Homo sapiens: one gene and its partner. The protein of the gene in region 2 purifies or fractionates together with the protein of the main gene of each other region. This does not show direct contact. Each region holds a gene or a part of one and is shown on either strand. Other genes may lie near its edges.

Evidence for each region. Proteins that work in one complex are often made in the same cells at the same time.
Region 1: the proteins of DDX27 (region 2) and DCAF13 fractionate together in Homo sapiens (co-fractionation; one large-scale study listed by BioGRID). This does not show direct contact.

The regions. Positions count from the first base shown.
Region 1 is NC_000008.11:103,439,230-103,441,671, reverse strand, and holds part of DCAF13 (DDB1- and CUL4-associated factor 13), read right to left. Parts: intron 1,537-2,442; coding exon 1,401-1,536; intron 218-1,400; coding exon 54-217; intron 1-53. UniProt on the Homo sapiens protein: Part of the small subunit (SSU) processome, first precursor of the small eukaryotic ribosomal subunit.
Region 2 is NC_000020.11:49,239,874-49,243,531, reverse strand, and holds part of DDX27 (probable ATP-dependent RNA helicase DDX27), read right to left. Parts: intron 1,640-3,658; coding exon 1,545-1,639; intron 1,450-1,544; coding exon 1,326-1,449; intron 939-1,325; coding exon 851-938; intron 1-850. UniProt on the Homo sapiens protein: Probable ATP-dependent RNA helicase. Component of the nucleolar ribosomal RNA (rRNA) processing machinery that regulates 3' end formation of ribosomal 47S rRNA.

The sequences.
Region 1 (2,442 bases), on a different chromosome or scaffold from region 2:
GATGAGAGCAGAAGTCAGAAAAGGGTAATAGAGTCAAATGCCTCAAAACATACTTTCGTCGACGAGCTTCTTTCATGATGCGCTGTTCCTGAATCTGGCTATAGATAGATTTTGGTAGATGTCGATGACGAGCTATACGTTTTATATGAGGATAATGCTGAAATTTCTCCTTCAATTTCTGGTTATAATCCTTGGCTGCTTTTTCTCGTGATGTAAGCTGAAAATACACATTTTGGTATCTTAATGAATAGTGTGTTGTTTTGCTTCAGTATAAAAAAGCTAGAAAGCACCCTTTTCCCCCTAACCTAATCTTTTATGATATGCAACCAAAATTGCCAATGTAATTCTGCACTTTACAAGGTTATATTAGTAACACTAGCTCTGCAAGCACTGAATTTCCTTTTAGGCAACACACTCGCCATGTAGATAGATGCCACCCAGTAGAAAGCAGCAGTGCTGAAGGAGTAGGGCCACGTGGATCACTGAGTTGGACCTTCCCTAGGCATCAATAACATAGAAAAGCACCTAAATCACTCACTCAAATTTTGGGGGTGGGTAAAGAGGTGAGTTAAACATAGTGAAACAGCAAAGAAAAAATAAGTATCCAATTCCATAAGAACTACCCTTTGTTTAACGAATGTTAAGGATGATACGATTTAGAGGAACATTTAATGATGGACCTAGGCACAATGCAATACTTATCAATCATTAAACCTAAAACAGAATTGCCTTTGATTTTCCTATCAGGACTAAGTAGAAAATAATTCACACTTACCCTTTCCTTCTTAAACTTAATATTTATTTCTAATATAAACACTCTGTTTCTTATAGAAAATATGGGACATTTAGAAAAACATCAAGAACAAAACAAAATCAACCATAATCCCCTATCCTGGAGGTAACCAGCCAATGATAACACCTGCTATTTTTTCATGGAATCTTTTTTAAAGTATGAAGCTTTCTGTATTTATTAAATGTTCCATTGTGTCTTTGATATTACAAGATCTCCCAGGGACTTGCAGCCTTTGAGTTGCTGGATGACTATTTCTCTAACAAGAGATACGAGCTCTAAGTTCTGAGCCTCTAGTTCCTGCATCTTCTGTCCCTACCTCAAGGAAAACACAAAAAACCAGTAAGACTCAATATTATCAAACATCTGAATTAACAAAGGCATTCTGAAGGTCTTAAATGTCAATTTGAATGTACAGTGTCTACAATAATAGATCAGAATGAAGCAAATAATTATCAATACAACCTTGTCCATTTATTGCTTTTTTTATCACAGCTATGTCAATTTAATCAAAATACCCAAAAATACCTAAAAGTAAATTTTCATAATGTAATATCTAATAAAATTAGAAATCAGCTTTATGACAATGAAAGAAAATGAATTCTCTTACCACACCCAATTTTTCAGAAGCATTAGCTTTCCACAGGCGAATGTTCATTTCATCAGATCCACACATAATATACTTGCTGTCAGAAGTCCATTTTACACAGATAACATGTTGCATTCTCTTTGTATGATATACCTCCCTATAGAAAACGAATTAAGTTAAAACCCTTTGGATTTTGGTACAGATTTTGAGTAACCACTGCCTATTAAGTATCAGGATACTATTTCTGAGTCCTATAGGAGTATAAAATAAAAACTCAAATTCTTGTCAATGTATTTTTATTGAACCCAACTAATAAGGTTCCGTGTTAAGTGCTGGGGTAGTAAACAAATTTCTGCTCTCAGAGAACTTACTATCTAGTAAGAGAAATAAATATGAACAAACTAAGCAAAACCAGATGTACAGAAAAGTTCACAGAATAACTAAAAGCATAAAATGCAAATAAAATATGATGTTCAACCAAGGTAACTTTGTAACAAAAAGAAAGGACTTGATCTTAAAAGGCCTCTTCCCCATATCAAATCAATTCAGGTCAACACACTTTTTTTCCCCTTCATTTTACTGAAAAAGAAAGAAATGCAATGGTCTTCAAAGAGTACCTCCTGATATGCTGAATCTAATGCCAGAATTTTGTTTTGGTTAAATTGTTTAAAAAGCTTAATTAATTAGACCAGCCTGCCCAACATGGTGAAACCTTGTCTCTACTAAAATTACAAAAGTTAGTTGGGCGTGGTGGCACACACCTGTAATCCCAGTTACTAGGGAGGCTGAGGCAGGAGAATCACTTGAACCTGGGAGGCAGAGATTGTAGTGAGCCAAGATTGTGCCACTGTACTCCAGCGTGGGTGACAGAGTGAGACTCTGCCTCAAAAAAAAAAAAAAAAAAAAAAAGCTTAATTAAAGTGAGTTGATGATTTACATGTGTGAAAAGGAAGGGAGGACTACAGAAGTGTCTGATAAGTTGAGGTAAGAATAATTTAATAGAGCCAGGTGCGGTGGCTCACACCTGTAATCCCAGCACTTTGGGAGGCTGCAGTAGGTGGAT
Region 2 (3,658 bases):
TCTCTGGGATGCATCATTTTCAGGCCCTAAGTTCTAAGCCTTTATGTGTTTCCACCTGATAACGTGTTTCTGGAAGTCAGGGCCCAATTTTAAAACAAGGTTGGAAGAGGCCCTTCTTAGGTATATACCACTACTTGGGAAGCTTAGTCTGCCCCTGCCCCAACCTTGGGCTGGGGAAAATGGTGTGGGACAACATATTCCTAAGAGCAAGCCAGGATTCTCTGGGGTTCTGCAGGATGGAACTTGAGATGAAAGAGTTATCACTCCCCTGAAGGAAAGCTCCATTTCTGAACCCAACAATGTACTATTTCACCTCCAAGGCAGGAACAGTGCTAACTGAACACCCCTCTCCTGTTCTCACCTTGGGATCCTCAGGTGGCTCTGAGAGGGGTGGGGGGTGGAGAACAGACAGGTACCCTTGAATTTACATAGTATAAAGCTATAGGTGTGCAAAAACTGGAAATGGGGAAGGAGGCAGAAGACTCATAGCTTCCATTAGAATACCAAGGGCTCGCCGGGCACGGTGGCTCAAGCCTGTAATCCCAGCACTTTGGGAGGCTGAGGCGGGTGGATCAGGAGGTCAAGAGATCGAGACCATCCTGGCAAACATGGTGAAACCCCATCTCTACTAAAAATACAAAAATTAGTTGGGCATGGTGGCGTGCGCCTATAGTCCCAGCTTCTTGGGAGACTGAGGCAGGAGAATTGCTTGAACCCAGGAGGTGGAGCTTGCAGTGAGCTAAGATGCACCACTGCACTCCACCCTGGGCGACAGAGCGAGACTCCGTCTCAAAAAAAAAAAAAAAAAAAAAAAGAATACCAAGGGCTCCATGATGACTTAAAATCCTACCCAGCTCGATACTGTTTCAGGGCCTTCTTGCTTGTGTTGGTGAGTTCTTCATCAAATACAGATTTCTTCCCCTGCTTTTGCTTCTTGGCTGTGCACAGAGAGAATGGGTTACATATGGTTGTCTTTGGCCCAAGCTCCTAAATCCCCTTAAGTTCAAGGTAATGATTCCAAGTTCAGTGGATACTCTGGCATCCAAAGACTATTTTCATTCTGTCCTCACCAGCTCCTCCAAGTAGCAGCTGGTGAGGCCTTAGGCTCCGGAGTCAGAAAAGCTGGCGTTCAAATCCTAGTTCTCAACAACCACAAGGTCACTGCGCCCCTTAGACCGTGGAGGGATAGCTGTACACATTGGTACATACTAATTACTCAAATAATGTGGGCTACTGTCATCATCCCTCAGATTTTCTCCCTGACCCAAAGCACAGGTTTCAGGGAAAACCTTGTACAAGCTCCTTTGGGCTCCCCATTCACCTACCAGGACCTCTCACTGGCTCCTCCTCGGGCATTGCTCGGGCCCGCTTGGCTCTGCGATTCCTCTTCGCTAGCCGTTCAGCAAACATCTGCGCCTTGAGGATTTCAAACTGAGACCTTTCCTCTGCCTAGGGGGAGTGGGGAGGTGTGAGTGTGGAACACACCAGGCCACTCTGACCCACCCCACCGAGTGGGCCCAAACTCCAAAAGGGAGGCCACTCACTGTCATCTCCCCCTTTTTTTTGGCATCCTTCATAAACTTCTTCCTTTTCTTCTTTCCTCTTAAGGCCAAGTCAAATTCCTGCAGAGCTTTGGCAACTGGGATGAGAAGAAAGCATAAGATTTCAGGGATGATTTTATCTTTTTTTAAGCTTACGATAAGAAGTGCACGTTTTCAATTGGTAAGTTAGCAGATTAAAATGAAAAGCGGCAAGCACTTCTTGGCCGAGTGCAGTAGCTCGTGCCTGTAGTCTCAGCACTTTGGGAGGCTGAGGTGGGTGGATCACCTGAGGTCAGGAGTTTGGGATCAGCATGGCCAACATGGTGAAACCCCGACTACTAAAAATACAAAAATTAGCTGGGCATGGTGGTGCACCTGTAATCCCAGCTACTTGGGAGGCTGAGGTGAGAGAATTGCTTGAACTTAGGAAGGGGAGGCTGCAGTGAGCTGAGATCGCGCCACTGCACTCCAGCCTGGGCGACAGAGCGAGACCCTGCCTCAAAAAAAAAAAAGAAAAGAAAAGCCGCAAGCACTTCTTCCACTGATTACCTCCATCTCACTAAATAACATGCTTTTTTGACTATTTCTCAATCCACTTAAGATACTCATTACAAACCTCCTGCTATGAAGGATGAAGATTTAGGTCACTTTACTACTTTACCCACCAATACAGTTATAACTCTATTTTTATCAGAAATTTAAGTTATATACACCCTTATTTTGTCCCATCAAATATAGACAGCATTTCTAAAACTGCTGGTATACCCTCTAGGAGGGAAATTTTGCAACCTCTAACAAAACTAGAAATACAAATATCCTCTGACCCACTATTCCACTTTTAGGAATTAATCCTGCAAGCCAAATATACACTTGCTTAATTGTAAAAGGGCATATGTGCAAGGTTATTCCCTACATCACTTGTTTGTAATGACAAATGATTATTTTTTGGGTTTTTTGTTGTTGGTGGTGGTGGTTTGAGTCGGGGTCTCATTCTGCCGCCCAGGCTGCAGTTCAGTGGCAGAATCTTAGCTCACTGCAACCTTGACCTCCCCAGGCTCAGGTGATCCTCCTACCTCAGCCTCTCAAGTAGTTGGACTATAGGCATGCACCACCATGTCTGGCTAATTTTTTGATTTTTAGTAGAGATGGGGTTTTGCCATGCTGCCCAGGCTGGATGACAAATGATTGTAAACAACCTCAATGTCCCTCAACAATCTACTCATATGATGGAAGAACATGAAGCCATTAAAAAAAACAAAAAGGGGGCCGAGTGCAGTGGCTCACACCTGTAATCCCAGCACTTTGGGAGGCCAAGGCAGGCGGATCACGAGGTCAGGAGATCGAGACCATCCTGGCTAACACGGTGAAATCCCATCTCTACTAAAAATACAAAAAATTACCCAGGTGCGGTGGCAGGCACCTGTAGTCCCAGCTACTCAGGAGGCTGAGGCAGGAGAATGGGGTGAACCCAGGAGGCAGAGCTTGCAGTGAGCCGAGATTGCGCCACTGCACTCCAGCCTCAGTGACAGAGCAAGACTCCGTCTGAAAACAAAAAACAAAAAGGGCAGCATATGTGGGCCTATATAAAACATATCTCTAAGCTTCAAAATTAAGTGAAAAGGCGAGGCATAGAACAATGTGAACTTATAAGTGTTTTGGGTCTTTTTTAAAGGGAGATGGAGAGGAAATCTGTATTAAATATCTCCTAACTTTTTTAAAATTATTTTTATTGTGGTTATATATACACATATAAAACAAAGGCTGCCATTTTACCCAATCTTAAGTATACAATTCAGTGGCATTACTTACATTCACAACATTGTACAACCATCACCACTATCTGTTTCCAAAACTCCTATCAGGAGGCTACTCACTGACATCATTGAAAACAGAAGCTCTGCAACCACTAATAATTTCCTATAACCCCCCTTCCCCTAGCCCTAAGTAATCTATAATCTATTTCTGTCTCTGTGAATTTGCCTAGCTAGATATCTCAGGTAAGTGAAATCAGACAGTATTTGTCCCTTTGTGTCTGGATTATTTCATTCAGCTTAAGATTTTCAAGGTTCATCCTTATGGCATGTATCAGAACTTCATGGCTGAATAATATTCCATTG